Homo sapiens: one gene and its partners. The protein of the gene in region 1 purifies or fractionates together with the protein of each later gene. This does not show direct contact. Each region holds a gene or a part of one and is shown on either strand. Other genes may lie near its edges. The genes, in order: GDPD5, STX8, ZMPSTE24 and ROBO1.

Region 1 (8,042 bases):
AGAGTCTCTGGTTCCCCTGGGTCCTGAGGAGGGGAGGACAGAGATGCTCAGGACAGGGTGAGAGGGAGCCATTCACAGCAGGCTGGGTGCTGAGTAGATCTGGTGCTTATGTGGGGACCTTCCTCCTCCTCCCCAGTCTGCCAAAATCTCCTGTTTCCCAGAAATCTCTCCCAGGTGAGTGTTCAGGAGAAATTGAGGTACCCAGGAGGTGAGGGAGCAGGCTGAAGGGTTCTTGGGAGCTTTACAGTAAACAGGAGGCCCTTTCCCTGAGATGCCCCCCTTCCTGCCCCACCCACCGCCCTCTGTGAGGTGTTTTGGTCACAGCTCACACCTCCCCAGGCTGCCCTGAGCACACTGCACTGCTCTTCTGTCCTCGCCTGACTCCCCTGCCTCAGTGGCAGCAGCCCCCAGCCCAGGACCTGCACAGAGGAGGCGTCTGTCAGCGACCCAACCTGAGCCCCAGAGAGGAGCACTGGGTACCACACAGCCCCAAGGCAAGTTACTGGCTGGGCTGGGGCTGGGGCTTCTGCCTCCTACCAAGGCTCCATCAGCCTCTACCTGCCATCTGCTATGTCTACTTCATCACCTCTCCTGGTGAATTCAGACTTCTCTCCATGCACTGGCCCCAGCTTTATGGTTTTTCCTGGTGTCCAGCCTCTGTCCCTCCAGCAGCAGCTTAAGGAAGGCGCATTCACTGAGCACCTCCTGTGTGTGCCAGGCACTGCGTTCACCATAACAGCAGTAACCATCCTTTATTGGGTGCTGACCACATGTGTCAGGCACCTTTCACTCAGAATTTCACAGTCATTTCACTCCTCACAATAATCCTGTTCCCATATCATGCTCACTTTTTAAAATGATATCACTGAGATTTAGTAAGCATTTTCTTCTGGCCAGCCGTTGTACTAAGCATTTCACTTGCATTTCCTCACTGATCTTCCCCAACCCCCTTCCAGGTAGGTACTCACTATCCCTATTTCACAGCTCTGGAAAGGTCCCTGGAGAGGATGTGGAAAGATCCCCAGTAGGTAGCAGAGCCAGGATTCGACTGAAGACCGTGATTCAAGTGAGGCTCTTAACCCTGGGCCAGCTGTCTGCCATTTGGACTGCAAAACCCAGAGGCCAGATACCCCTAAGAGGCCAGCTGTTGCACCTCTGCAAGGCGGGGTTCCACCTCCTCTCGGGTCCCGGCACCTAGGCCAGACTCATCGAATGAATGAAAGACTCTGTTGTATCCCCTGTACCCACCATGGCTATCACAAGCCACAGTCCCATGAAGACAGAGAACCCAAGGCCACTTTCTCAGAGGAGGACGGTGATCTGTCTCTGGGCCTCTAGGGTGGGATTCATCCTTCTCAGTCAGATTTCAGGAGCGATGGTGGTTGCGTTTTTGGGTGTCAGTGCTATTGCTATAACTTAATGATGCAAGGTAGGGAAGTCCCACAGACACTGAACATGCAGTGATGCTGCTGAGTGTGTTGATTAGCACCAAAGCAACTGTGGAACTCAGAGATAATAACATTTTTAATTGTATTAGGGTTTGGGGAATCAGTTTTATTGCAAGTCGTTTCCATTAATAGGTATTGTGATGAGATGCTCCTGGAAACCATCCTTAACTCACTGTGTGCAGGGCCACCTCCCACGATGGCCACAAGGGGGAGCTGCGCGCCGGGGGCAGCCGGGAGAAGGGGCCTGAGTGCCGAGGGCGGGGTTCTCAGGGGTTCGGAGGCGCAGCTGGGCCTCCCAGAGACTGCGCAGCCTCTCTGACACCAGCGTGCTGTCTGTCCGAGAAAGCGCACACCCCCTTACCCCCTGAGATGGGCAGAAGGTGTTCGTTTCTGGTTCTGCCCCTTCAAAGCTCCGTGACCCAGCCAGCTGTTCCTCTCCCCGAACCTCGCTTCCCGTGTGTGAGATGAGGATGCTCGTGCCTCCGCGGAACCAACCTGGGGACCACGCGAAGCGCCCCCACAGGCCCAGGCACGCCCATGCCTCTTCCCGCCCCGAGCCCCCATGTCACAGCCCTTCCAGCTCCTCACCTGCCTCGCTCAGGTCTCTTGGGGGAACATTTGTTTCCAGGCTGATGGGCTGGAATGAAAAGCCTCCAAAGGGAAACTTCATCCCAGGCGAGACTCAGCATTCCCCGCCGGCGAGTGAAGGTCCCTGGGTAGGGAGCGGAGATGCTGGCCACCGCCCCACCCTCATCGTCTAGAAATGCCACTGTCCCTGCTCGGCATCAGAGGGCCCTGGCCGCTGCTGCCTCTGGGAAAGGTTGCCTCGGGAGAAAGGGGGTGAAGGCCCTGCCAGCAGCTAGAACGGCTCCAGGGAGGCAGGGCGGCCGGCAGTGCTGTGGGAGAAGGACAGGCCTTTGGAGGGAGATGGGAGACGAGTCTGGAGAAACTAGGGGGACGGAGGTGGCGGCTTTGACTGACCCTTCCAGAGACTGGGATCTGCGGGAGGCTTTGGAGGAGAGCCACAACCTGGGCTTCGGGGAGGCACGCCTGGGGGTGTGGAGGGGGGTGGGTGGAGTGAGATCCACGGCTAGGGGCGAGGGGCTGGGGGCCGAGGAGCCGAAAACCTCTGCCGAGCTTCACGTGGTTAAAGATTTCAGGTCTTACCTGTCACCAGAGATCTCTGTCCCGTAGAGGTGCCACCTCATCCTCCATGAGAGCTGTGCTTTGCTTTCTTCTGGAGGCTGCAAGGAGGATGGCCCCCATCACGGCGGACCTAGATGCTGGGAGTCCGGGAGAGGGCAGGCCGTGGAGATGGGGCAGGTGGCGATGTGTTTCACCACCCACTCCCGCCTGAAGTGCCACTGTGAGCCCAGCCCAGGGTGCCAGGCTGGGCTGCACTCCAGGCTCCTGCAGCAGACCCAGTTCCTCAGCCTCCTTCCCCTGAGGCCTGGGCATGGCCTGGACAAGTGGGTTTCCTCCTCTGCTGTGCCATGCTGAGGTGGCAGGGAGGCTGGGCGGGACCTTGGATGTGACTAACCTGCCAGGCCCAGGGAGGTCCCCCTTACTGAATGTCCTCCCTCCTCACAGTTCCCTCCTCCTCCTGTCCCCATCCTCCCTTCCATTTCTCGCTGTCCCTTCCTCGCTGGGTCTGCCGGCCTCCTGCTGCCTCCTCCTGCCTCAGTCTCTCCCTGCCGTGTCTATCTGCCGGCCTCTAGTTTCCTGGCAGCCCATGCCTGTCTCTTTCCTCCCTCCCCTCTGCCCTGCTCCATCGGCCTCTCCTGCCCTCTCTGTCTCTCCCTCTGGCTCCTCTCTCAGACACACTGGGAACCCTCCCACCCGCTCTGAGCCTCTGTCCGGTGACTCTTCCCCCTCCAGATCGGGCTGGTGGTCATCCTGGCTTCCACGGTGGTGGCCATGTCGGCCGTGGCCCAGCTGTGGGAGGACGAGTGGGAGGTGCTGCTGATCTCCCTGCAGGTGAGTGAGGAGGGTCCCCCAGGACCCTCACAACAAGAGCCTTTCTGTCACTTCCCTTTCTCCAGACCAAGGCCCAAAGAAGGGCAGGGAGGCGCCCAGGGTCACAGAGCAGGTCAGAACTAGGGAGGACACCAGGGTCCTGAGGCTCCCAGTGTCCCCAGTTGGCAGATGGAGACAGGGTTGCCTGCCTCATAGGTAGAAGTAGGAGGCTGGTGACACAGGGTCTGGGCAGAGCTGGGCGTTACTGGTCTCCCTTCCCTCTCCCTGCAAACAGGGCACAGCGCCATTCCTGCATGTGGGGGCTGTGGCAGCAGTCACCATGCTCTCCTGGATCGTGGCAGGACAGTTCGCCCGCGCAGAGCGGACCTGTGAGTAGAACTGTGAAGGGCCTGCCCCTCCAATCCCTGCAGGTGCCAAGACCAGCTGGTGCTGCCCCGACCTGGGCTTTCCCTGGGGGTGGCCTGGGGATGGGGTGGGGCCCCTGCACTCAGTGAGGGGGATTCTGGCTCAGAGTGGCCCACAGAGTCCACGGAGGGTCACAGCTTCAGTCGGCCTCACACTGTATTCCTCCTCCATGTCTCTCTCTCTGCATGTATGCACCTGTGTCTGTGTGAGTTAGAGGCGGGGTTCATCTTCCCAGCAAGAATAAGGGCTTCCCCCTAGAGCACCTGGATCCTGACAGGTCGGGGGTAGAGGGGTCCAGCATTGCACCCCAACCTGCCCAGGGCTCACCAGGCAGCACTCACGGCCCCTTATCTGCAGCCTCCCAGGTGACCATTCTCTGTACCTTCTTCACCGTGGTGTTTGCCCTCTACCTGGCCCCTCTCACCATCTCCTCTCCCTGCATCATGGAGAAGAAAGACCTCGGCCCCAAGCCTGCTCTCATTGGCCACCGCGGGGCCCCCATGGTGAGTGCCACCTCAGGGTCCTAACAGCCCCGTTGGGGTGGGGTGCGATGGGGGGGACCTTCTTGGGAAATGGATATATGTAATGGTAGCAACCATTTGTAGCTTTTTGAGGGGAGGTACATGGGAAGGACTGGCAAAAAGGCCGGGAGTGCTGGGATGGAAGCACATCTTGAAGCGTCCTGAAGGCATCTTGCTAAAAAGATTTCAGTTTTGTCCTAAGTGCCCTGCAAAGATGCAGGAGGGTTTTAGGCCCAGGCTAGACCCAGGTGCCAGTTAGGAAGGCCCAGGAGATGGATGCTGAGTGTGGGGCCTGGGGTCTGCCACCAGGCATCAGGAGAACCCTCCAGGAGAGCTGGGAGGCAGCTCAGAGCCCACTGTGACAGTGAGTACGGCTGAACCGACGTGAGTTGGAGAAAGACGAAGGGATCAAAGTCAGCGCCGCATTCTGCCACCAGTGCACTCCATAGCCCTGCAGGAGAGCTTCGGTGAGAGGGCAGGCTCCAGAGCCATGTTGCCTGAGTTAGCATCCCAGCACAGCTCCTCACCAGCTGTGGGAGGCCCAACAGTTTCCATCTCTTTGCCTGGTTCCCCCATCTTGTACCATGGGACTAGTGAGAGCACCTGCTGTGGGGCTATGAGGAGCAGGAGTTAGCATGTGTGCAGTGCCCAAATATGCACATGGTGCACAGAAAGTAAGAGGCAGACACTGCTGTTACCTTGGGCAGGGCCATCTCTCTGGAGCAGGGTCTCCTGCTCCATGAAAGCCTTGAACCCAGGCTTCTTAGCAGAGGTAGTACACACCCCCACCCTGCCAAGTGGGGGTGTGTGTGAGCACTTCCTGAGGGCTTGGCTTCCTGGTGTTCCAGGCTGTTGTGGGACCTCAGGGTAGTAAGGGGGTCTCACATAACTGCTTTGGAAGGAGGTGCTGGGTCTGCCGGGCTGCCACTCACTCTGGAAGTCTGGCCCCCTGCATGTGGTGGGTATTATTTTCTCGATAAGACTCCAGCCCCTGAGCCAGACTCCAGTGCTGACCCCAGTCCCTCCCAGAGGCAGCCAGTGGGGATCTGGATCTGGTGTCCAGTTTGGCCACATGCTGCCTGTGCATCTTGGAGGGGTCACCAGTCCCCTCTGTGCCTCAAAGGTATGGATGCCCATGCTGCTGGTTATTGTGAGGACCAATTGGAGCCCAGCCTTCCCAGTGGGGGCAGGGGAACTCTTCTGAGGGGCTTAAAACGATGGCCCCTCCTGTCTCCATGACTCAGATTACCATCTCCTGGGCTCCCTCCAGCAGCCAGGGGACATAAGTGGTATGCTGAAGCAGGAAGGTGGCCCCAGCGAGGATGGTTTTCTTTAGTAGAAAAAGGTCAAATATATGCAGAAGTGGAGAAAAGCATATAATGACTCACATAATGAAGAAGGATGTAATGAATCCAATCCCATACTTATCTACGTTTGGCCATTCTTGCTTCATCTGTTCCCTACTTTTTTTTCTGGGGTAGTAAAGCAAATCTTAGGCATCGCATCGTCTTACCCATAGGCACTTCAGGATGTATCTGTAACACATGAGGACTTCAGAAAGATGCATAGCAACAATGCTGTTATTACACCCAGCCAATATTAAGGATAATGATTCCTTAATATTATCTAAAATGGAATCCATGTTCAATTTCCTTTTATTGTCTCGAAAATATCTTTTTACAGTTTAGTTGTTAAAAATCAGGATCCAAATGTGGTCCACAGCACGCATCTGGTTGGCGTGTCTCCTGAGTGCCTTTTGATTTGTAACAATCCCCCGGCTGGGCTCAGTGGCTCATGCTTGTAATCCCAGCACTTTGGGAGGCCAAGGCAGGCAGATCACCTGAGGTCAGGAGTTCGAGACCAGCCTGATCAACATGGAGAAACCCCATCTCTACTAAAAATACAACATTAGCTGGATGTGGTGGTACATGCCTGTAATCCCAGCTACTTGGGAGGCTGAGACAGGAGAATTGCTTGAATCCGGGAGGCGGAGGTTGCAGCGAGCCGAGATTGCGCCATTGCACTCCAGCCTGGGCAACAAGAGTGAAATTCCGTCTCAAAAAAAAAAAGTTCCCCGTCCCTTTTTTCCCTTAAGCTGTTTATTTGTCCTGAGAAATGGAGTCATTTGTCCTGTGGGATTTTTCACATTCTGCATCTGACTGATCATGCCCTGGTGGTAGTTTTTGAGGGGCTGGCAAGGGTCCCCTCTGTGTGTCCCTGTGCATTGCCTTGGGGGGCTCTGACTCTGGGTCCACATGTCTGTGTGTGGTGAGCCCAAGTGCACATCTCTGTCTTGGAGACTGTCTGTGTGTCCCTGGATGTGTTGTTCCTATGCAGATGTGGCCTGTCCCTCTGTGCATGTGTGTACGTGTACTTTAATATTTGATTGCACTAACTCTGAAGCTAAGACTCTTTTTTAATAGTACTTTGAGTTGCTGTTTTATAAATCTGGGTCTCTTAACCATAGTGTCCCACCCACCTGAGTAACCACCACCCCCCTATGCACACCCTCCTGACAACAGAACCCCACTTGGACTGGCCTGAGGCAGGTGCGAGCTCTGAGACGGGGACTAAGAATTCACCCCAGCAACGTGTATGCTTCTGGGGCCTTCCTGGAGTCCTGAGCCTGGCCAGGGAGGGCCAGGTTTCCATATCTCTTTCTCCAGGAGGTCAGCACCTAACCCAGAGAGAACTTAACTGTGTCTAAAAGCTTCCAAAAAAGACTTTCCCCTTCCCAAACACTTCCTCTGCCCTGAGGGTCTTCGCAACCCCTTCCAAGCTTCTGCCTTCTGCAGCCCCAGCCCATGCAGCAGGGAGCGTGGACCCCTGTCAAGTGGTCCCTGATGGAAGGCCTGGCCGCAGGATATTCAGAGATGGGTGGGATTCCACTGAGTCCTTGCCTCTCTCTCCATGCCTTTGTAGTCCTGCTTCCCCTGGGAGTGCCTCACACAACCCACTGGACTGGGAGACAGGTAACATGTCCTCCAAGAGTGCTGTATGCCAGGGACAGGAGAAGAAAGAAACTCATTACTGAGACCCTGCTGTGTGCCAGGTCCTGGGCTAGGGTCTGTGACTTTTGTTATCTCACCTGTGAGGTTGATAATGTTAGCCCATTTTACAGCTAAAGAAACTGAGGCCCCAGCTCTGTGTCTGGGAAGTGAAATTGCACCTTTTTAGTCCGTTCCAAAGCCCTCACCACTCCCTGGCTCCCCAGTGCTAGGCTGTGTCACAAAAGAGGGGAGTGGCTGGGGAACATCGTGGCCAGAGGGAGAGAAGGTGGGAACAGGATTGTCTTCAGTGGGAATGAATGAGATCAGCCATGGGAATCCTTCCCACCTCACCTCTTCACTGACAGAGCAGGGCAGGGGGATCGGGGGTGTCCTCCCTCCCTCCTTCCCTCCGACCATCCCTCATGGACCTGGTCTTCGCCCAATCCTTGGTTTGGTGCTGACCCCCAGTGGCAGCAACGGGTATGACAGTCCTCAGATGAGACCCAACTAGGGAGGCTTGAATCCCAACTGTCCTAAGCATAAAGACCCTCATGAGTACACATCTCTAAGGGGCACATGGGGAAACTGAGACCCACAGAGAAATATACCCAAAGTCAGGACAATAGTTAATGGCAGAGTCAAGGCTAGAACCAGAGCTGGGTGTGGTGGCATGCACCTGTAGTCCCAGCTATTTGGGAAGT
Region 2 (8,042 bases), on another chromosome or scaffold:
CATGAATTAATACATGTAAGATTTATGATGGCTCAATCCAGAAGGGAGGGACACCTCGAAGGGCGTGGGGGGCTTCCAGGTCATAAGTAGATTGAAAAATTTTCTGATTGGCAATTGGTTGAGTTATTATCAATAGAAACGAATGTCTGGGTTATGATAAGGGGTAGTGGAGACCAAGATTTTATTATGCAAATGAAGCCTCTGGGTAGCAGGCTTTAGAGAGAATACATTGTAAGTGTTTCTTATCAGACTTAAGGTCTGTATTGACGTTAATGCTGGTTGGCTTTTCCTGAATTCCAAAAAGGAGGAGAGGATATATAATGAGGCATGTCTGATCCCCTCTTCCCATCATGGCCTGAACCAGTGTTTCAGGTTAACTTTGGAATGCCCTTGCCTTAGAGTAGGGGTCCGTTCAGATGGTTGCGGGGGTGGGGGGGGGTGTTGGGGGTGGGCTTAGAATTTTATTTTGGTTTACAATACATATTCCTAAGTTGCCCTCCACCTTCTGGAACCTAAATCCCTCAGTTTACAAATCAAGTAGGAAATAAAGGTCAAAGATAAGGGACAGGCCCCCAGTTATCTATTTAGATTGGTGGAAGCTATCACTGGACCCCAAGCTTCTTCCGCAGTTAATGTTGATAAAGCATTGAGACTTTTTCTGTTATACTTCATTAGTTTGATGAAGTGGCTTTCTCATTGGACTATTGAGAGTGAAACAGTGAGACACTCAGCTGTGCTCCCAAAGCACAAAATGGGTCGCTGATTAGGGGGGTAGAAAGGAGTATGGGAAGGGACTTGAAAAACCTATAAAAGGCCAGGTGTGGTGGCTCACACCTGTAATCCTAGCACTTTGGGAGGCTGAGGCAGGCGGATCATAAGGTCAGGAGTTCGAGACCAGCCTGACCAACATGGTGAAACCCCGTCTCTACTAAAAACGCAAAAATTAGCTGGGCATGTTGGTGTGTACCTGTAATCCCAGCTACTCAGGAGGCTGAGGCAGGAGAATCACTTGAACCCAGGAGGTGGAGGTTGCAGTGAGCCGAGATTGCGCCACTGCACTTCAGCCTGGGCGACAGAGCGAGACTCCATGTCAAAACAAAACAAAACAAACAAACAAAAACAACCTATAAAAACAGATTCAACTACAGCTTTACCTTTGTGTTGCTAAAATCATAGGTCATTGGCACCTCCCTCAGTGTCTAGCAATGGAATATAGCAGTTACTATTTTAATGGCCTATCAAAGCAAGTGGTAAGCTCGCTGTTTAACAGAAGGAGCCCATGATCACTGTCTCTGAACTGGCTCTTTGCTAATGTTAATTAGCTTTACCTCCAGGGTAACTAATTTGTTGATGATGTACCATTTCCAGAAAAATTACAGTTAAACCTTAATAGTTTTATATCCTGATTGGACTTTTTATGTTGGTAGCATGGTCTTCTTTGTGTTGAATTGCTTTTTAAAAACTTTATTTTGGAAGGTAAAAGATACACAAACTAGAATAGTATAATGGGCCCCTTTCATACTCACCACCCAATTTCTGTGATTATCAATATTCTGCCATTCTTGTTTCATCTCTACCCTCCACACCTTTTTTTTTTTTAATTTTGAGATGGAGTCTTGCTCCGTCGCCCAGGCTGGAGTGCAGTGGCATGATCTTGGCTCACTGCAACCTCTGCCTCCTGAGTTCAAGTGATTCTCCTATCTCAGCCTCCCGAGTAGCTGGGATTACAAGCACCCGCCACCATGCCCGGCTAATTTTTGTATTTTTAGTAGAGATGGGGTTTTGCCATGTTGGCCAGGCTGGTCTTGAACTCCTGACCTCAGGTGATCACCCGTCTTGGCCTCCCAAAGTGCTGGGATTACAGGTGTGAGCCACTACGCCTATGCCCGGCCCAGATTACTTTTTTTTTTTTTTTTTTTTGAGACAAAGTCTTGCTCTTGTCCCCCAGGCTGGAGTGCGATGGCACAATCTCGGCAAACTGCAACCTCTGCCTCCCGGGTTCCAGCGATTCTCCTGCCTCAGCCACCCCCCGACCCAATTACTTTTTCTAAACTAGTACTTCAGGCACCTGTGTGCTTGATAGTGTAATGAGGTTGTCTATTGCCCCAGGCCAAGGGTTCCCGCCCGGACTTTACCGCAGATTGGAATCACTTGGAGAGCTTTTAAAGCTCCCCACGCACGCCCAGGACAAACCCCATACCAGTTGAGTCAGAATGCTGAGGTTGGGACCAGGCATTGTTATTTTTTTAAAGATTCCCCAGTGATTCCAACTTGTTTCAGAACTATTGCTCTTTAGGGCTAAAATAACAACACAAGGACTGGAGTCAGGACACCTGGGAGTTTGTGCTAGCTGTGTGCATTTCTCATAACCTCTTTAGGGCCACTCTCTGTGTGTAAAAGTGTTCTCTATGGCTCTGAAATTCTCCTTTAAGTCTAACCTTGTTAGACTGGTGTTCAAGGCTCTGCAGAAACTAGCTTCTACTCATCTCTACCATTTTATACTTAACAGGCTTCCAGGGCCACCACGCAGCCAAATGTGCCGGGCACGTTTCCTTCCATTCATCTTTGCTCGCCCTGTCTTTCACTAAGTCTAGAATGTGCTCCTCCCTCCTGTCTGAATAAGAGACCTGCTTTAACTTCGTGGTCATCCAGATGTAACCTCATGGACCCTCTCCATCTGAGTGCCTTGGTCAGCAGTAATCTCTTCCACCTCTGAACTCCAGACGTACTTACCACTTAGATCCCACATTTGGCAGGAGGCAAAACTTACCATATGTGGATGATTTTTATATGTATGGTCTGGACCCCAGAGCCAGACCTAGGCTCCTCTTTTCATGATAATATGGAGGAAAAAAAAGTGAAATGTGGCAAAGTTTGGACCAGGACCCAATTTTCCTTATTAGCCTCCTGTTTTCTTAATTCTGTGTTTTCTTGTATCACTGCTATTTTTCCCTACACACACAAATACATGAATATATATATATGAATGATATACATGTGACATATACGAATATATAGTATATATGATATAAACGATAGGTATGTGATATATATGAATATATGTATCAGTGATATATATGATATATGTGAATGTGTGTGATATATATATGATATATACATGAATGGTGCTGCTTTACAGTATAGTGGTTAGTGGTTCAGGATCCTCTCTCAGGATCCTTATGAAGTTTACAGTGTAAAGCTCTTAGTATAGGACCTGGCTCAGGTCAGGTACTCAGCTGTTACTATTGCTATAATTATTCTAGTAAGATTCCTAAGGGAATTGATGGGCGCATTTTCCTTCATTTAAAAAAAAACACTTATCAAGTTCCCTCAGTGTTCAAATGATATGTGGGAATTGAAAGGTTTTAAAAAATATATTGTTTACTCAAGCAAAAATTAGGACATTAGGGGCAACAGGAGTTTCTGATATTTTGTGATGGACTGGTCCTGGAAGATAATGCTGGTCATGTTAGTCCACAGAGTCTCTGCTTTTTAGGAGCAGACTGTCTGATAGGAGAAATGAAATGTGTATGCATGCTTAAGTATTTTCGTTTTTTTGTTCGTTTGTTTTTTTGAGATGGAGTCTCACAGTGTCGCCGGGCTGGAGTGCAATGGTGTGATCTCAGCTCACTGCAACCTTCGCCTCCTGGGTTCAAGCGATTCTCCTGCCTCAGCCTCCCAAGTAGCTGGGATTACAGGCACCCGCCACCATGCCTGGCTAATTTTTTGTATTTTTAGTTGAGACGGGGTTTCACTATGTTGGCCAGGCTGGTCTCGAACTTCTGACCTCATGATCTGCCCGCCTCGGCCTCCCAAAGTGCTGGGATTACAAGCGTGAGCCACCGCATCCGGTCTGCTTAAGTATTTTCTATATGATAGAAAGTAAAAATGCTCTGAGAGAAGCAAAACATAAGGGGCTATTGGGAGTTCACCGTGAACCCTTCAAAGCCTCCAACGCTGCTGAATGACAACTAGAAGCTTATTAAATGTTTTGAGAGAATTCTGGCAAGCTCAGATGTCAGGTGGGTGTGTGGCCTTTGTCCCCGGAGCATTTGGTTTTAGGCTAGACAATACTTGCTGTTCCTGCACCCTAGAGCCGCCCCCAGGCATCTGCAAGCCCAGCTTCTTCACCTTGCCTCGGTGTCACCTGATCCTAAGTAGCAGCTCCTTATCACTCTCTGTCCCTTTATCCTGCTGCGTTTTTCTTCTTAGCACCTATCAACACCTGACATACTATGTATTTAATTGTTTTATGACTTTCTTTCCTTAAAATATGAGCTCCTTGAAAGAGGGACTGTGTTCATTCTGTTTACTGCCGTCTTCTCCAGTGCCCAGAACAGTGCCCAGTGCAGCGGAGACCCCCCACATGCTTTCTCATTGGCAGAACAGCACAGTTGTTAAGAGCCCCGGCTCTGGGGCCAGACGGCCTTGGTTTGCAGCAGGCAGAACCACTTGGGCAAGTCACTCTAACTCTTTGTGCCTCCTTTTCTCATGTGTGAGTTGGAGATGGTAATGGTACCCACTTCATAGCGTTCCTGTTTTGATTAAGTGAGTTATTACTAACGAAGCCTTCAAAATAGTGCCTGGCACATGGTAAATAACGCTCAGTCCATGTTGCTTTTACTGGTCATGTTATTATTCTTCCCCTCTGTTTGAATTCTTTGGCTAGAATGAAAATGTCAAACTTAGACAATGCAAAAATTTCTTTTAAAGAACCTTAAGGCCAGGTGCAGGGGCTCACGCCTGTAATCCCAGCACTTTGGGAGGCCGAGGGGGCGGATCACGAGGTCAGGAGATCGAGACCATCTTGGCTAACACGGTGAAACCTCATCTCTACTAAAAATACAAAAAATTAGCCAGGCATGATAGCGGGCGCCTGTAGTCCCAGCTACTGGGGAGGCTGAGGCAGGAGAATGGTGCGAACCCAGGAGGCAGAGCTTGCAGTGAGCTGAGATCGTGCCACTGCACTCCAGCCTGGGCGACAGAGCGAGACTCCGTCTCAAAAAAAAAGAACCTTAAACATTTTCTCTTTTTACGACTTTGGTGCAGGTTCTCCACATACGATTCTACTTGTCAAATTGCCCAAGAAATTGCTGAGAAAATTCAACAACGAAATCAATATGAAAGAAAAGGTGAAAAGGCACCAAAGGTAATACCATGAAGGAATTAGTACCCAATGATTTGTTTGAGTTTTGAGGCCTGAAAACCCTCCTATCTTTCTTTGAGGCTGTCTGTGCACATGTGTGTATGATGATCTATCTGCTTACATATGTTGAATTGACATAACACCCAACCAGTTAGTAGTGATGTAATCATTGAGACTAAATGAGGCATAACACATTTAAGTTCTCCTGTTTTACTTTAAATATTTCTAACAATTTTATAGTCTAGTTCAGGGGTTAGTAAACTTCCTACAGATAATAAATCTTTTAGTCTTTGCAGGCCAAGAGATAATGTCTTCAAGTCTTTGAGTTTCCATTCTCACCACAAGAATAGTTATAGTTTTTACATTTTACATTAAAAATGTAAAAACAGGCCAGGCATAGTGGCTCACACCTGTAATCCCAGCACTTTGGGAGGCTGAGGCGGGCAGATTGCTTGAGGTCAAGAATTCGAGACCAGCCTGGGCAACATGGGGAAACCCCATCTCTACTAAAAATATAAAACCTAGCCAGGCGTGGTGGCACACACCTGTAGTCCAGCTACTCAGGAGGCTGAGGCAGGAGAATTGCTTGAACCTGGGAGGTGGAGGCTGCAGTGAGCTAAGATCGTGCCACTGCACTCCCGCCTGGGCAACAGAGTGAGACCCTGTCTCAAAAAAGAAAAAAATGTAAAAACCATCTTTAGTTTTGGGCTGTATAAAAACAGTGGTGGGATTTGGCTAAGAAATAGATTTTTGTGAAATCACAAGTTTATACTTGTGACTATGATTGAAAATAGAAGCCTCTGATTCAAATCTAACACCACACCTTTCTTCCTTATTTTCCACATTCCAAATTTGTATTTTCTTTCTCTCACACTGAGAATCCTAGTTTCCAAAAGCATCAGTATGTTTTTACTCATTTGGTCTATTTTACAGTTTACAGAAAATGGTTTCAAAATTACTATAAGGTACCACGACAAACACTGAGTTCAAAATTTGAGTCTTTTTAAGTGTAGACTAATCTACTAAGAATGCTGAGGTTATTATGTTCCAAAGTTATTAGAATTATTTTTTAACTTTCAAGTTCAGGGGTACATATGTGGGTTTGTTGTATAGGTAAGCTTGTGTTATGGGGATTTGTTGTACACGTTATTTTGTCACCCAGGTATGAAGCCTAGCACTTACTATTTTTCCTAATCCTCTTCCTCCTTCCAGCTTCCTCCCTCTGCTAGGCCCCAGTGTGTGTCATGTCCCCCTATGTATCCATATGTTCTCACCAGTTAGCTCTCTCTTATATCAACAGAGTGAACAAACAACCTACAGAATGTGAGAACATGCGGTATTTGGTTTTCTGTTCCTGCATTAGTTTGCTAAGGATAATGGCCTTCAGCTCCATTCATGTTCCTGCAAAGGACATGATCTCGATCTTTTTTATGGCGGCATAATATTCCATAGTGTATATGTACCACATTTTCTCTGTCTGGTCTACCATTGGTGGGCATCAGGTTGATTCTATGTCTTTTGTTATTGTGAATAGTGCTGCAGTGAACATACACATGCATGTGTCTCTTTTTTTCTCTTTTTTTTTCGAGACGGAGTTTTGCTCTTGTTGCCCAGGCTGGAGTGCAGTGGTGCAATCTCGGCTCACTGCATCCTCTGCCTCCCAGGTTCAAGCCATTCTCCTGCCCCAGCCTCCAGAGTAGCTGGGATTACAAGTGCCTGCCACCATGCCTGGCTAATTTTTGTATTTTTAGTAGAGATGGGGTTTCGCCATGTTGGCCAGGCTTGTCTCGAACACCTGACCTCAGGTGATCCACCCACCTCGGCCTCCCGAAGTGCTGAGATTACAGGTGTGAGCCACCCCACCTGGCCACATGCATGTGTCTTTATGGAAGAATGATTTCTATTCCTTCGGGGATATACCCAATAACGGGATTGCTGAATCAAATAGTATTTCTGTTTTTAGTACGTTGAGGAATTGCCACACCGTCTTCCACAATGACTGAACTGATTTACACTCCCACTAACAGTGTATAAGTGTTCCTTTTGCTCTGCAACCTCCCGAGCATCTGTTATTTTTTGACTTTTTAGTAATAACCATGCTGAGTGGTGTGAGATGGTATCTCATTGTGGTTTCGATTTGCACCTCTCTAATGATCAGTGATGTTGAGCTTTTTTTCCTGTTTTTTTTGGCAGCATGCCTGTCTTCCTTTGAAAAGTGTCTATTCGTGTCCTTTGTCTGCTTTTTAATGGGGTGGATTTTTCTTGTAAATTTGCTTAAGTTCCTTATAGATACTGGCTATTAGATCTTTGTCAGATGGATAGCTTGCAAATATTTTCTCACAATGTGTAGGTTGTTTGTTCACTCTGTGGATAGTTTCCTTTTCTGTGCAGAAGCTCTTTAGTTGATTAGATCCTATTTGTCAATTTTTGCTTTTGTTGCAATTGCTTTTGATGTCTTTGTCCTGAAATCTTTGCCTGTTCTTATGTCCAGAATAGTATTGCCTAGGTTGTCTTCCAGGGTTTTTATAGATTTAGGTTTTACAGTTAAGTCTTTAATCCATCTGAAGTTAATTTTTGCATGTGGTGTAAGGAAGGAGTTCAATTTCTATCTTCTGCACGTGGTAGCCAGTTATCCCAGCACCACTTATTGAATAGGGAATCCTTCCCCCATTGCTTGTTTTTGTCAGCTTTGTCAAAGCTCGGATAGTTGTACGTGTGGCCTTATTTCTGGGTACTCTATTTTTTTTTTTTTTTTTTTTTTGAGACGGTGTTTCTTCTCACCTAGGCTGGAGTGCAGTGACATGATCTCAGCTCACTGCAACCTCTCCCTTCTGGCTTCAAGTGATTCTTGCATCTCAGCTACCCGAGTAGCTGGGATTACAGGTGTGTGCCACCA
Region 3 (8,042 bases), on another chromosome or scaffold:
AACTGAAGTGTGATGACAACCCTGATTATAGTTTTACCAGTCAGGTCACCTCAGGTTCTCTTGTTCTGCTTTTATTTTCCTGCATCAGTCGTTTCATGTACTTGATCAAGTGCAATATTTGTGTAGGTATAAAGCAAATTCAACAGATATAAGTGGCAAGCTATAAACCATTCGATGTTTGATCATAAATGACTATTGTAATAAACAACTATTTCACTAAAGTGTTTTCTTTAAAATATTTCAGAGAAGGATATATAAAACAACAACTCATGTACCACCGGAGTTAGGACAGATCATGGATTCTGAAACATTTGAGAAATCTCGACTCTATCAACTGGATAAAAGCACTTTCAGCTTCTGGTCAGGACTCTATTCAGAGACTGAAGGCACTGTGAGTAATTTACTTCTTGGAGAGACAGTCTGTCTGGTTGTTTTCATTTTCATATTTTTGTAACACAAAAGAGGGTACCACACTTACAAGTCCCAGAATGCTTTCTTAACCTTTGTTATTGATAGTAACGGCTGTGGAGCAAAAAAGACAGAAACATAACTGCTTAGTCAGTTGAAAACTATAGAATATGGGAACTATTACCCTGAAGCCAGGTAGGAAAAAGATCCTCTTCCATTAGGATCCAGCTGAGATGTCATGTCTTCTAAGCAACCATTTGAAACTCCCTGCCTGACGAATGTGGATAGGGTAGCATTCTATCATTATTCCTGTCAGAGTACTTATCTCATTATGTTGAATTTGCCTGGATTTTTTTTTTTTTCTTCTGGCACAGTCTTGCTCTGTCACCCAGGCTGAAGTACAGTGGCGTGATCTTGGCTCACTGCAACCTCTGCTTCCTAGGCGCAAATGATCCTCCCACCTCAGCCTCCCGAGTAGTTGGGACTACAGTTGCATGCCACCATACCGTCTCAGAGTGCTGGGATTATAGGCATGAGCCACACTGTACCTGGCCTGATTTGACTGTTTAATTGGCAGACTGGTAGTTCCTTAAAGAAATAGTTAAGTCTTGTTCATCATTTTATACCTAGTGCCTGGCATGTAATCAGCATATAGTTCCTATTTATTGAATGAAATAATGTGGGGTTTTTTTGTTGCTTTTTTTGTTTTGTTTTGTTTTTGTTTTTGAGCAGTGTCTTGCTCTGTCGCCCAGGCTGGAGTGCAGTCGCACGATCTTGGCTCACTGCAATCTCCACCTCCCGGGTTCAAGCGATTCTCCTACCTTAGGCTCCTGAGTAGCTGGGACTACAGGCGCGTGCCACCACACCTGGCTAATTTTTTGTATTTTTAGTAGAGACGGGGTTTCACCATGTTAGCCAGGATGGTCTCGATCTCTTGACCTCGTGATCTGCCTGCCTTGGCCTCCCAAAGTACTGGGATTACAGTCATGAGCCACTGTGCCCTGCCACTTTTATTTTTATCATCCTGATCATCATCATCATCATTTCTCTAGAACTTTTAGATCTACTAGTACCACTAAGAGAAAGATTCCTAAATTTAAAAGAATTATGATCAGCTACCATCATTGTTTCATGAGTTAAAGAAACTGGCTTTATGTAGCTGTGGTAAATGACAGAATTGTCTAGCTCATCACAAAATTTTTCTTAACAAGTATGGAATAATAAGACTAGTGTGGTTAGATCCAAATTATTAGAAACTGCACTTATTTCTTCAAGGTGATGGAAAATGGCAATGCTTCTAGAAGAGTTAAATTTTGGTATTTAGAAAAATTAATAAATGATTTGGAAAACAAAGTCTCATTGGCTTTGGGGATACACAGCTATTGCTATTAAGTAATCTTTTCAATAAAGACTTGGCTTTAGTTAATTTATCTGAGCATTGCTTCTGTTAGGGACATGTCACAAGTAGGAAATCATCCTTCAGAGACAGATGGAAGTAGAAGTGGTTAATTTAGACACTATTCTTTTTTTTTTTTTTTTAAATAGATGAAAGAGAGTTTACTTATGTATTTATATAATGGCCTTGGTCCAAAAAAGACTAAAGGGAGCTCAAAAAAGAATTATAGTAACTTTAAAAAATACATTAAACATATCCAAGATCTTAAATGTATCATTCTCCCCAAAAGCTAGTTGCTTCCAAACTTGACTTAATATTTTGCATGTTTTCCCTCCATTGCTTGGTAAGTGTATTTGCCTCTTCTTTCTGCAGTTGATGTCTGACGGCTGAGTTTTGCTGTTTTGTCAACTGACATTTCCCCTTCTGTTTCACCAGTTCCAGAGAATTGTTGAACAACTTAACAACACTACCTGAAGAAGTAATACTCAAGAGTTCTTGTTCTATACTGATTAATAGCTCCCATATTTTCTTCATCTCTGAAAAGTCTGAATTCTCTGTTTAATAATGACAAGGCAATTAGATGAGGTAGACACTATTCTCTTTCTGATGTTTGCTTCTTGGAAGTCCTTTGACTTTACCCACTACAGGGCCATAGTAAAATAATAGGAAAAGCATTTTCAATCTCCTTGGTTGTCCCTGGTAAATAGTGCCAGGAAAGATAGACAGTAGCTTGGTAATTATGGTTGGTGACCATAGGAATGGCTGTTTGTTCTAGGGGATGACAGAAATAGGGAGAATACATATATAAAGTGAGAGCTTTGTAATGTACTGTGGCTCAAACTAGAAGCAGTACTGATGGGCTAAGGTTGGGAACAGTAATAGTTAATAGTCGTCATGATTTTCACTTCATACATAGTTTTTATATGTATTGTTTGATGTTTACAACAGTGAAGTGGAAAGGATAGGCATTATTATTCCCTTCTTATGAATGAGGAAGCAAAGGCTTGGATAAATTAAAGGGTTTGCATGTTTAATTGCCAAGGGACATGCTAATAAGTAGGATAACTGGGTTTCAAACTCTGTTCTGCTGAGTCTTTAAAATGACATTGAAAAATCCATTCTTGAAACTCTAAAGACTGCAACATGAATGTGCTAAATTTATCTCTGGGGATTTTCTGGCTGCATTTATGCTTGGCAGGAAGAATATTTTGGGTAACTTTGAAACCTTGTTTTGTTTGGAAACAAGTTCATTAATTTCTATTTTGTGTTGATTAGAATTAATAGGTTTGTATGTTTTGGTCACAGAGATCAAGTGAGAAGATTAGCTTCGACTTTTTTTTTTTTTTTTTTTGCCGTAGTACTTTCTACCTGAGGGAACCTAAATAGAGTCATTGTGTGGCCATTTATGGTTGCCACTGTTCACATAAATATGACACTGCACCCAGACAGAAAATTCCAGCCTCTCTGAGACACTTTCTCTAATATCTCACAGATATCAATAAAGGGCCCACTGAAGAAATGGAATGGCTGGGGAGCAGAGTAGGTCAGGGTCGAAAAGTTTAAATTGTTGCTTCTCTAATTTTTGCATGTTTCTATGTGAGCAGTTTCACCTTCTTGAGCCTAAGTTTTCTCATCTTTAAAATGAGAAGTGGGCTGGGTACGGTGGCTCACGCCTGTATTCCCAGCACTTTGAGAGGCCGAGGTGGGGGCGGATTACCTGAGGTCAGAAGTTTGAGACCAGCCTGACCAACATGGCGAAACCCTGTCTCTACTAAAAATACAAAAATTAGCCTGGCGTGTTGGCACATGCCTGTAGTCGCAGCTACTCAGGAGGCTGAGACACAAGAATTGCTTGAACCCGGGAGGTGGAGGCTGCAGTGAGCTGAGATTGCAACACTGCACTCCAGCCTGGGTGACAGAGTGAGACTCCATCTCAAAAATAAATAAAAATAAAATAAGAAGTGTGTGGATGTTAAGCCATACCTTGTATGGTTTGTGGCAAGGACTAAGTGAGTGAGATAGCGTAAATGAAGCTCAATGCGTAGGAATTACTTAGTCATTGGGTTTCTTTGGACAAGTTACTTCAACCTCTCAGTTAAAGTAACCTTTCAGTTAAAGAGTTTCAGTTGCCTCATCTATTAAATAGAGATGATTATACCCTTTTCCCTGCCTGTTTTTCAAGACTGTAGTAGTGAAGCCAGGCATGATGACTCAATCCTGTAATCATAGCACTTCGAGAGGCTCAGGTGGGAGGATCACTTGAGCCCAGGAGTTTGAGACCAGCCTGGGAAACATAGTGATACCCCATCTTTGCAAAAAAATTTTTAAAAAATCAACTGAGTGTGGTGATGTGCACCTGCAGTTCTAGCTACTTGGAGGCTGAGGTGGGAGGGTTGCTGGAGCCCAGGAGATGGAGGCTGCAGTGAGCTGTGATCACACTGCTGTACCCCCGCCTGGTGACAGAGTGAGATCCTGTCTCAAAAAAAAAAAAAAAAAAAAAAAGAATGTAGTGAAATAATATATGTCAAAGCGCTGGAATTATTTTTTCTGGGATCATTAATTTTGCCATAGAACAACCCTGGGAGCATGCTTAGTGAAATTGTCAACATAGAGACATTGTACAGTTCACCATGCTTTGTTTTTCAGTCCCCAAAAGAAACTAAACATGCTTTGTTTTTCAGTCCCCAAAAGGTTTGCAGTATCAGTTTTCAAATGCATTTATAGATCATTCAGAATTCATATTAAAACTACCCTTGATGCTTATTTAAATACTGGACTTTTAATAATAGTTGCTGTGGCCTTTACTAAAAGCATTATAAGTCCTTAATTATACATTATTTATTAGTATTGGGAATTGGCTGAAAGAAATACCATCCCAGGTCAATTAGATCAACAACTACAGCATATGTCAGACAGTGGTACCAAAGCATGTCTTTTGGGAAAACAAGGTTTATGTCTAAGATTGAATTAGTTGTAGTAAAGTGGAAATACCTGGAGGTAGTGTTAGGGGAGCCTTTTGAAAAGCAATTTATTGGGGCTGAGTGCAGTAGCTCATGCCTGTAATCCCAGCACTTTGGGAGGCCACAGTGAGAGGACTGCTTGAGGCCAGCCTGGGCAACATAGTGAGACCCCATCTGTACAAAAAATTAAAATTAGCCAAGTATGGTGGTGCATACAGTCCTGGCTACTTGGGGGGCTGACATGGAAAGATCCTTTGAACCCAGGAGTTCAAAAATTCAGTAAGCTATGATCATAACACTGCTCCCTAGCCTGAGTGACAGAGTGAGACTCTGTCTCTTAAAAAAAGAAAACAATTTATTAAAGCAATGATTTTCAAACTTTAGTGTACATCAGGTTTACCTAGAAACTGCTGGGCCCCACTTCCAGCTTCTGATTTGGTACATCTGGGGTAGGGCCTGAGACTTTGCATTTCTAAGAAATTCCCAGATGCTGTTGCTGCTGTCCAGAGACCATATTTGAGACCCATGATATTAAACCAATCCAATGTACTGGTAACAGTCTAAAAGATGGATAGTTTAAAGTGTGGGTGAGATTGTGGGAAAACAGAAACACTGGAGTACTGCTGATGGGAGTGTAATTTGTTATAAACACTTTAGGAAATATCCTGATAATACCAAATAAAGTTGAAGTCCACCATGGATGGATCTAAGAAAATTTAGAATATAAAAAGCAAATCATAGACTGATAAGTATAATATGATGTCATTTATATACATTCTTTAAAAGCATACATAAATCACTATATTATTTGTAGATACATGTATGAAAATGGGAATTAGATTGGAAGGGTACCCATGAAATATGATAGTACCAAAACCCCTCAAACCATGAGGAACTATGTCTGAACCAGTGGGAATATTGTGCTTCTAGTCAAGGAATGTGATTGATCATTGTGTTCCTAAGCTGCTGTCCTACAGAGAGAAAAAATAAATTGATTCCTCTTGACAAATGAGTTCCACAAAGTTGTATGTGTTTTGGGCGGTAGAATTCTTAAACATGCATTCTTCTCAAATTTTGAGCTGCTTCCTAGCTCCTAATGTCCTGGTTATTTAGTGAATGTCTGTGTTCACTTTATCTGCCCAAGACCAAGACAAAGGGTGGTGCTGAGGAAGAGCCTTCTCCTGTGAAAGCCGGGCCCCTACCTCACCTCTTCCTGACCCAGCAAAGACACAGATAATCCCATTCTGTTCCCCAGTTTAGTAAGTGGACATGACTCTCCACTTCTGTGCTTTGTTCTGATGGAAAAGGACTATTTTCTTTCACAGAAAAGACAATTATGGAGCCATATTAATGTGGTTCAAATTCCATTTCTATCACTCATTAGCTGTTGGATTTCGAACAAGTTTTTTTTTTTTTTTTTTTTTTTTTTGAGACAGGGTCTCATTCTGTCACCCAGGCTGGAGTGCAGGCACGATCATGGCCCACTGCAGCCTCGACATCCCAGGCTCAAGCAATCCTTCTACCTCAGCTCCCCCGAGTAGCTGGGACCACAGAATCATGCCACCATAATTGGCTCATTTTTGTATTTCTTGTAGGGACAGGTTTCACCATGTTGTCCAGGCTGGTCTCGAATTCCTGAGCACAAGCAATCTGCCTGCCTTGGCCTCCCAAAGTGCTGGGATTACAGGCATATGCTACCATACCCAGCTGTTTAACCTTTCTAAGTTTAGTTTGTGATTTTGTTGTGGTCTTTTGACAAAAGGTTTTTTTTTGTTTTGTTTTAGAACAGCTTTATTGAGATAATTCATGTACCATACAATTCATATACCATACAATTCATCCATATATAGTGTACAGACAAAAATGTTATATTAACCACCTAAATTTAGTATCTCAATGGTTAGTACTCATCTAAATGCATAATTTATGCTAAATGTGAAATAGGTCTATTTTTTAAAAAAATATTTTATTTTGTTATTTTATTTTATTTTATTTTATTTTATTTTATTTTATTTTATTTTATTTGAGACAGGGTCTCAGTTTATTGCCTTGCTGGAGTGCAGTGTCACAATCACGGCTCACTGGAGCCTTGACTTCCCAGGCTCAGGCAATCCTGTCACCTCAGTCCCCCAAGTAGCTGGGTCTACAGGTACGCACTATCAGGCCCAGCTAATTTTTAAATTTTTTGTAGAGATGGGGTCTCAACTCACCTTGTTGCCCAGGCTGGTCTTGAATTCCTGGCCTCAAGCGATGCTTCTGTCTCAGTCTCCCAAAGTGCTGGGATTACAGGCATGAGCCACCGTACTGGCCTCTTTTGTTTTTTTAATAGAGATGATTATTTTGTCCTTTCTTTCTTTATACCATGCTTTCTCATATGATAGTTTCTAGTACTGTTCAACTGTGATCAAAGTATGCTTTGTTTTATAGCTTATTCTTCTCTTTGGAGGAATACCTTATCTCTGGAGACTTTCTGGACGGTTCTGTGGTTATGCTGGCTTTGGACCAGAATATGAGGTATGTGATTCATTAGCATGTATTTGTCATGGTATTTCTTTTAGCTTGGCAGGCTTTCCACTAAAGTTAATTTTTTGGCTTCTGCCAATGTTAAGATTTGCCTCTCTGTTTGCATAGTCCTTGGTTACCCATGCTGTATTGGCATAACATTAGTTACAATAACAAATCCCAGAATATCACAGGCTTATTTGCAATGGTTTATTTCTCAATCACGTAATAGTCCAGTGTGAGTATTTTTAGTTATCAGGTGACTTTCTTCCATGTGGTAAGCCAAGAATCCAGGCTCTTTATCTTAGGGATTTGTCTGTATGATTTAAGGTACCTTTCATATAGTGCCTGTGTAATAAAAAAGGAATTGTTTTGTTTCTCATTTACTTCTCTCAAAAGTAAACTTTTTTGAAGGCAGGGATGATATTTCAGACCTTATGTTATCCATAGAATCAAGCATATTGCTTGGGATGTAGTAAGTAAGTGCTCAGCAAATACTTGTTGATTTGTTTGCCAGTAGTTCATAAAAACTGGATTTTTGTTTTTTCTTTTGTTTAGATCACTCAGTCCCTGGTGTTTCTGCTGTTGGCTACACTTTTCAGTGCATTGACTGGTTTGCCATGGAGTCTTTATAATACTTTTGTGATAGAAGAAAAACATGGCTTCAATCAACAGGTATAATAAAGAATACAAATGTTCTCTTTTAAATGTGAAAAACTTCTGTGCTTTTGTCCTGTACTGTTTATAATTTAAACATAATTTACTATTTCAGAGTA
Region 4 (8,042 bases), on another chromosome or scaffold:
TATATTACAGCACCTGTTATACCTGTTACACTGCTTATACCATCACTACCTCCACCACTATTATTTTTATACTGACAATAATGAGCTACAGTGACTAATAACAAGTTATAGGATAAGCTTACCTAGGGCCAGGCACTATACTAGAAACTTTTCACACATGAACAATTTCAAATCTAACCATATCTCATTTTACCAGTGAAGAAACTGAGGCAGTGAATGTGAAGATGTGTACCCAACTTACAATGATAAGTAGCAGAACTGACATGTTTGCACCCTCCAATAAGGTAGCTACTTACCATATGGGGCTATTTAAATTTGAATTTAAATTACTTAAAATTAAATACAATTGCATATCCAATTCCCCAATTACTCTAGCTACACTTACATGTTCAGTAGTCACTTGGTGCTGTTGGCTACTGTATTGGAGAGAGTAGATATGGAACATTTCTGTTGTAGATATGGAACATTTCTGTTGTATGGTGCTAACATTTTCTGACTCCAAAGTCCGTGCATTTAATCACTTTGTTAAACATTTCTGATTCTTACACTTCCTATTTTATTTCTGGATAATTCATTCTAATAATTCCAACAGAAGATCCTAGACCTGAATATAAGGTTTGTCTCCTTCTAAATTAAGATTTGACTCATAAATGCAGTACATTCTTTGGTGTCTGTAAGTGTAAACATTTTACGAGTATTTTATTCTACTTCATGACATCAAAAACTTTCATTTCTCTACCTGGAAACATCAAATTGCTTTAATAAACCCTTAAATATTTCTCTTTTTTTTTTTTTTTTTTTTGAGACAGGGTCTCACTCTGTCACCCAGGCTGGAGTGCGGTGGCCTGATCAAAGTCCACCACTGCAGACCTAACCTCCTGGGCTCATGTGATCCTCCCACCTCAGTCTGTCAAGTTGCTGGGACTACAGGTGCACACCACCATGGCCGGCTAATTTATTTTTATTTTTATTTTTATTTTTGTGGAGATGGGGTTTTGCCATGTTACCCAGGTGGGTTTTGAACTCTTAGGCTTAAGCAATCCACCTTACTTGGCCACCCAAAGTGCAGGATTACAGGCGTGAGCCCCAGTGCCCGGCCAAATCTTTCATCTCTGATTTACATAATAGTTTTTTTTGTTGTTGTTGTTGTTTTTACCAAAGAGGACACTAGTGATACTACAGTACATAATATGTCTAGCCTTTTGCAATTAGCCAAGCACTCCCTTATCTGTTCCATTTAAATATGCATAACAATACCCTGCCTGAGCTATTTAGAAAAAAATATTATTATGCTTAGTTGATGGATTTAAAAACAATACAAAACTGAGGCTTAGAGAATTTAAGGAACTTGCCCAAAGACATATGGCAGATGCTAGAGCTGATCTTTTTCTTTTATTGCTTTATTTTTGTTAAGTATACATTGTAAATTATACCACAAAAATGGCATCAATAACTGGTTTGGGATGGAATGGGGAGGTGTGGATGACACTAAATAAAATACAAATATCAAAGAACCATAAAGATAGAGAACATTGAATATATTCCCAGATATTGGATTGTTTCTAAATATGATAAGACTACCAAATTTAAACCATTCTTCTACTGGACTTAATTATAATCAGTTATAAAGAATATTCCTTCTGCCAAGTTTCAAACTCTAGCCTTCTAATTCACCCCTTGATATTGCAAATTTCACCCTGGTAACCAAGACAAAGAAGAGAATTGGAAGAGTAGAGTGGAAATGCACAGCTGCTGATTTCACTCCATTGCTTTCCTGTTTATCTTTTCTTTTTTTTTTTTTAGTTTGCATGCACAAAACTAATATTTATTGCATGACAAATGAGGAGCAAATTGAAGTGTGACTCCAGCTTGTGAAAATCTTTGGTGCATAAAGCTTGGAACATGACAGATCCAGCTTTGAAAATTATTGCTTCCAAAATTTAGTTACTCTGACAACCACTTTTCTTTAACCAGGCAACTTAGAATCTTTCTTTGTACATTTGTGTCTTTTAAAAATTTTTCATTAACATCCAGAATTTTCAAGTTGAATATTTAAAGAAAATTTCTGAAATTTGGTTTTTAAGTCATTAAAAAAAAACTATAGAGTTTCATATAAATTGCCTAAGTCAGGGGATGGGAACACCTCTTCAATGTAGGATTTATTCTAGTTCCAACACAGTTGTTCTATGTTTTCCCCTAAAAAAGACTTCATGTCAGATAAAGTTTTTAGATTTTAGATTTTTTTCATGTAATCATAGGGTTAATTGTATTTACACATAATAAAATTGCCTCTCGTTGTTATTTTCCGTAGTATGTTATAACTATTATCTAAGGTAACGGAGTTAGCAGAGGCACATTCCCAATCCCATTAATCCCAATAGAGAAGTATGGTGTTTGCCAAGTTAGAACATCATTTTGACTTGTCTCTTTGGATCAGCCAAACAACAATGTATTTGGGCAATTTTCCAATTTCTTTGAATTCATTACAGTTGGGTAATTTTCTCCCATGTATATTGTAATAGAAAGAATTACAAGATAAAAAGACACAGGGAACTCAATCACACTGATTTATTAAATTACGAAATCCAATGCACTTTTTTGGATCCAAAATTGTTAAACATGCTGGTATGGTACCTTGTTTCTTTTTTTCTGTTGTACAAGTTATGAAATGTCAATTTGGCTTTGCTTCATTTATTAAAATTTATCTCATATGTTTCCTTGAGAGGAATGGTCTTTTTGTTATGTTGTGTTTTTTCATGTTTTTGAGTTTAAAAAGTACAGTATTCCATGATCACGTCTCTGTATCTACTTCACCATCCACAATCCTAATTCCCGAACTCTTTAAATAGGCCTCTTGACGATGCAGCCAGCTCAGTGAGTGGCTGGTCATTTGAAAGTAGCACATTGTGTCTCATTTTAGTATTCTGAATCAGTGCATCATATAAATGCATTTTGAATAATGCATGTCTGCTACTTTAATTACTTGTTTAATTATCTTTAGTTTGTTTCAAAGCCTAGAACAACTGCTGTTGCTTGGATGATTAGAAAATTGCTTCCAGTTGCAGAAATCTATTTCCTGTTGTTTCTTCTGGCAGTGATTGCAGATCGGCCTCCCCCAGTTATTCGACAAGGTCCTGTGAATCAGACTGTAGCCGTGGATGGCACTTTCGTCCTCAGCTGTGTGGCCACAGGCAGTCCAGTGCCCACCATTCTGTGGAGAAAGGATGGAGTCCTCGTTTCAACCCAAGACTCTCGAATCAAACAGTTGGAGAATGGAGTACTGCAGATCCGATATGCTAAGGTAACTTGGAATGGCACCTTGCGTTTCTTGTTTTGTTTCACTTTGTTTCTGCCTCCAACAACTGGCATTGAAATTTCTAACTTTGCAATTAATGAAGTGTTAAATGAAGAGTAGTAATATATTTTTAATTTGATGTTTTATTTTTTTCAGATATTTCATTGTATATGTTTGAGATGATTTAACTCATAATTTAGTCCATGGCAGGTAATTTAAGGTTGTATGGAGGAGAAGAAAGGATTTCTAAGAACCTACCGAGGAAAGTAAATGAGGGTTTGTGAGAGAATAAATATCTTCAAAGTAGTGGTACGAAGCAGTCCTTCCATAAAGCATCTTTTAAGATATTTACCTGTATCATTTTATGTGCAATATATTTAGATAGTTCTTCTATTGTAAGTGTTTGTTTCAGCATTTTGCAATGGCAAAACTATACATGCAAACAAAAGCCATAAAGCAATGTACACACCGAGTGTACAATTCAAATCAGAATGCTCAATGATGGAAAGCCCACAGGTCTGTAGGAACCATTTAAGGATTTACTTTCACAGGGCATCATATCCCATGCCTGCTCTTTCAGGACTTTATTGTTTTGATTTTTCTTCTTTTTTTATGTCAAGATCAGACGAGCTCCTGAGGCATATGAAAGAATAGTCCTGACAGCAATAAACATGAATTTCAGTTGCTTTATCTCCTAGTGTGGGTGGTTCCTTTGGAGTATTGGATCAGCATCACAGTTCACTTTAAGTGCCACAACAGTTAATATGTTGTGCTGCTTTGTGACTGTTGTGACTTGGTTCCTGCAATTGCCAGGGCAAGATGACAACATTCTTTCTTTATCAAATGTTACTTGAAGATAGTTATTAGCTTGAGCAGAAGTAGATGGGTTTATTATCCTGCTGCTGATTTCAAAGTTGAACATGTAACCTATGTTTGCCTTCTGACATTCAGTTTTTAAAAGGGAGCGAGAGTGTTCGTTCCAGCTTGAGTTTGGCTTTGTACTTCTTAAACTGCCTTAAGTTACAAGTTTTAAAACCCGGAAAAGTCAGTAGTTTAAGAAAAAAATTCTATGATGCCTATCCTTTTTCTGTTGATCTCATATATCCATATAGTTAAATATATAAGTAAAATATGAAATAGCAAGAATAGGCATTGGTTAAACTTTATCAGCCTTATTATATAACTTATTAAACATAAAGATATATCTTAGCCATAAATATTAACGCTCTAAATTTGAAGAATTGTATGCCTTACCTTAGGAATTATTGTCCCTGAGACTGATGATAATATATGCTAATGCAATTAAATATTTCTTATTATACCATTAGAACAATCATATAAAATCTTTTTTTCTATATTGATGTAATATTTTCCTTCACATTCAATAAAAATATATTCAACTAAGGGGAAGTTTCTGGTTAGTGAATTTTAATGCAGTTATCCATATTCATGGATCATATACAAACCTGTAATTGCTTTTCCAGCCCAGTGAGTTCTTGATTTTTCCAAATATTTATTTTTTGTCTGCCTTCTCAGCTGGGTGATACTGGTCGGTACACCTGCATTGCATCAACCCCCAGTGGTGAAGCAACATGGAGTGCTTACATTGAAGTTCAAGGTAAAGTAAATGGTGTGTTTCCCTTAAAGTGAAGCTTAAAATGCAGTTGTTTACTTACTGGGATATTGATGAAGTAAATGTCCTCTTCCCTGAGTAGGTGTATGAATATGTTATCTGCATTTATCCGCTTATCTGTGTATGTGTAAACATCTTTTATTTTGGCCTTTTTCCTGCTTTTTAGAATTTGGAGTTCCAGTTCAGCCTCCAAGACCTACTGACCCAAATTTAATCCCTAGTGCCCCATCAAAACCTGAAGTGACAGATGTCAGCAGAAATACAGTCACATTATCGTGGCAACCAAATTTGAATTCAGGAGCAACTCCAACATCTTATATTATAGAAGCCTTCAGGTAGAGTGAAGGAGATGCTTCCTAGTTGTTCTTTTTTGATTCTCCATTAAATACGCATGTTCTAACCTGTGTGTCTATCCTTAGCCATGCATCTGGTAGCAGCTGGCAGACCGTAGCAGAGAATGTGAAAACAGAAACATCTGCCATTAAAGGACTCAAACCTAATGCAATTTACCTTTTCCTTGTGAGGGCAGCTAATGCATATGGAATTAGTGATCCAAGCCAAATATCAGATCCAGTGAAAACACAAGGTAAATATTGATTTACTTAAACCTGTGACACCTACTTATCCTTAGATGTTATAATTGCACTGACAAATCACTTGTGCTACATGCTAGAATTGTACATTTACAGTGTGTTGTTCAAGTTGCCCAAGTTGCTTAATTAATTTTTAATATACAAACACAATGTCTACAAACTTTATTATTTTCTGGACTAAGCATACCAACATAAGATGGATTAACAAAGAGAACTGTTTCTCATAAAATTACAAATATATCAAGACAAAAATATTACGTGAGGAGATGGAAAGTAGAATGATGGTTACCAGAGGCTGGGAAGGGTAGTAGGGTGGCTGTGGGGAGGGTGGGGATGGTTAACGGGTACAAAAAAAAGAATAGTTAGATCTAATGAATAAGATCTAGTATTAGATAGCAACAAGGTGACTGCAGTCAATAATAATTTATTGTACATTTTTAAATAAAGTATAACTGGAATGTTTGTAACACAAACAAAGGATAAATGATTGAGGTGATAGATACCCCATTTACCCTGATGTGATTATTATGCCCTGTATGCCTATATCAAAATACCTCATGTACCCATAAATATATACACCTGTTAGTACCCATAAATTTTAAAAATATGTGAATATTTGTGTATTCTATTCAATTTCCTGAATTTTAAATATGGTAACATGTAGGTGTACAATCTTAATCATATTATAATTGTATTTAAAATTAACCAAATTTTATTTATTTATAAGTTCAGTACTCACAACCTTCTGGATGAATTTTTAGATTACAACCCTAATCAAATAATACTCTCTTGAGATCACATAAATATGAGAGATATCTGGATACCTTTTATTTTTGGAAAAAAATCACGTCATTGTAAATAAAATGTGCTTGTTTTTATATTAGTAAAGAAAGGTAATTCTAGAGGGGAGTGATTCGAACTATAAAATTATTTTCTCAACATACAGAGGGATAGTGTTTCTATCTTAAGGGAACAAAGGAAAAAAGAAAAAAAAATAGACTTGGTTATTTTAATAGAAACAAGTTATACACAAGATGACTGAGACTTAAAGTCCTTTGCTGCTGGTTTGGGAGAGGGGTCTGCCAGCCATGTTGCTGTTTTGTTACTTCAAGTATGTACAGAAACAGTCTTTTTGGAAGCACTTTTTGTTTCAGAATTTGCAGAAAAAGCACACCAAGTTGTAGAACATGCCCACGTTTGTCTCTTGTGTGAATGTAACACACCCATAGCTCATATTTGCTATTATGAATCACCTCTCCAGGAGCTTTACTATACTTGCAGCCTGCCTTAAGGCAGTCTGAGGTTTTTGATATTAGATACACATTTGTAAAGAATGTAGACCCAATGATAGCTATAAAATGAATTTAAACTTTTGTCCCCAGTACAGTGGTCTCCAGCCAGTAGACTCTAACTGAAAGGTTTTGATGACTAGAGCTTAACACCGTTTTGTCCTGTACTCACATGCATGATTCTGGAATATGTAACCTCATTTGTAAGTGAGCAGTAAGTTAGCATTCTGTCTGAACATTCATTTAGTCTTTTTAACATTTCTGTCAATTTGCCTTTGCATATGCATAGCTAGTGGAACAATGTATTAGTCTCTTCTCACGCTGCTAATAAAGAACTTCCCCGAGACTGGGCAGTTTATAAAGGAAAGAGGTTTAATTGACTCACAGTTCAGCATGGCTGGGGAAGCCTCAGAAAACTTACAATCATGGCAGAAGGGGAAAGAAACACGTCCCGGTTCACATGGTGGCAGCAAGAGGTGCCGAGCAAAAGTGAGCAAAGCCCCTTATAAAACCATCGGGTCTCCTGAGAACTCACTCACTATCACGAGAACAGCAGCACGGGGTAACTACTCCATGATTCAGTTACCTCCTACCGAGACCCTCCCGTGACACATGGGGATTAGGAGAACTACAGTTCAAGATGAGATTTGGGTGAGGACACAGCCAAACCACATCACTCTAAGTATAATGAATCCTTGTTAACTGGAATACTGGAAATATAGAGAAACAGGCATACAGTTGTGAAATCAAAGACTTTTTTTTTTTAAATTTCAGCTCCTCAATCCACTAGCTGTGTGACCTTGAGCAAGCTAGTCAGCCCTTCTGAGTTTCCTCACCTATAAAATGGGGCTAAACATACCCATTCCTCGGGATTGGACAAAGAATACATTAACCAATCAATATATAAGTATATAAGATTCAGATTTGTTTTCTGTTTTATCCCATAAAATCTGTTATTGGACTTGTATTTCTTTTAGTGTCAGGACTAAAAGTAAAGGAAGTTCATAAAATTTGTGGATGTCGTAAAACTGAGAAAGACAGCTAGTATGCCAAATAAGAGAATCAGAATTAAATATAACTCAACAGATTGGACTGATGGGAGAGTGCTAACTATTAAAGTTAATAGAGCAAATTAAAAAGTCTGGTACTTGAACTTGGGTTTAAAAAATTAGCTGTAAAAGGATAGACTAAAGACAGCAGGCTTACGGGAAGTATATGTGAGTGTGTCAGGG

What was found.
Region 2: the proteins of GDPD5 (region 1) and STX8 purify together in Homo sapiens (co-immunoprecipitation; 3 studies listed by BioGRID and IntAct, with this or other methods). This does not show direct contact.
Region 3: the proteins of GDPD5 (region 1) and ZMPSTE24 purify together in Homo sapiens (co-immunoprecipitation; 3 studies listed by BioGRID and IntAct, with this or other methods). This does not show direct contact.
Region 4: the proteins of GDPD5 (region 1) and ROBO1 purify together in Homo sapiens (co-immunoprecipitation; 3 studies listed by BioGRID and IntAct, with this or other methods). This does not show direct contact.

What each region holds. Positions count from the first base shown.
Region 1 is NC_000011.10:75,445,268-75,453,309, reverse strand, and holds part of GDPD5 (glycerophosphodiester phosphodiesterase domain-containing protein 5), read left to right. Parts: intron 1-339; coding exon of another isoform or gene 340-494; intron 495-978; exon of another isoform or gene 979-1,977; intron 1,978-2,076; exon of another isoform or gene 2,077-2,917; intron 2,918-3,326; coding exon 3,327-3,425; intron 3,426-3,699; coding exon 3,700-3,793; intron 3,794-4,187; coding exon 4,188-4,333; intron 4,334-4,660; exon of another isoform or gene 4,661-4,818; intron 4,819-8,042. UniProt on the Homo sapiens protein: Glycerophosphodiester phosphodiesterase that promotes neurite formation and drives spinal motor neuron differentiation.
Region 2 is NC_000017.11:9,565,478-9,573,519, reverse strand, and holds part of STX8 (syntaxin-8), read left to right. Parts: intron 1-3,582; exon of another isoform or gene 3,583-3,964; coding exon of another isoform or gene 3,965-4,022; intron 4,023-5,049; coding exon 5,050-5,149; intron 5,150-8,042. UniProt on the Homo sapiens protein: Vesicle trafficking protein that functions in the early secretory pathway, possibly by mediating retrograde transport from cis-Golgi membranes to the ER.
Region 3 is NC_000001.11:40,260,595-40,268,636, forward strand, and holds part of ZMPSTE24 (CAAX prenyl protease 1 homolog), read left to right. Parts: intron 1-244; coding exon 245-391; intron 392-2,244; exon of another isoform or gene 2,245-2,368; coding exon of another isoform or gene 2,369-2,389; intron 2,390-7,191; coding exon 7,192-7,278; intron 7,279-7,824; coding exon 7,825-7,941; intron 7,942-8,042. UniProt on the Homo sapiens protein: Transmembrane metalloprotease whose catalytic activity is critical for processing lamin A/LMNA on the inner nuclear membrane and clearing clogged translocons on the endoplasmic reticulum.
Region 4 is NC_000003.12:78,665,355-78,673,396, reverse strand, and holds part of ROBO1 (roundabout homolog 1 isoform a precursor), read left to right. Parts: intron 1-3,095; coding exon 3,096-3,301; intron 3,302-4,831; coding exon 4,832-4,913; intron 4,914-5,094; coding exon 5,095-5,263; intron 5,264-5,347; coding exon 5,348-5,514; intron 5,515-8,042. UniProt on the Homo sapiens protein: Receptor for SLIT1 and SLIT2 that mediates cellular responses to molecular guidance cues in cellular migration, including axonal navigation at the ventral midline of the neural tube and projection of axons to different regions during neuronal development.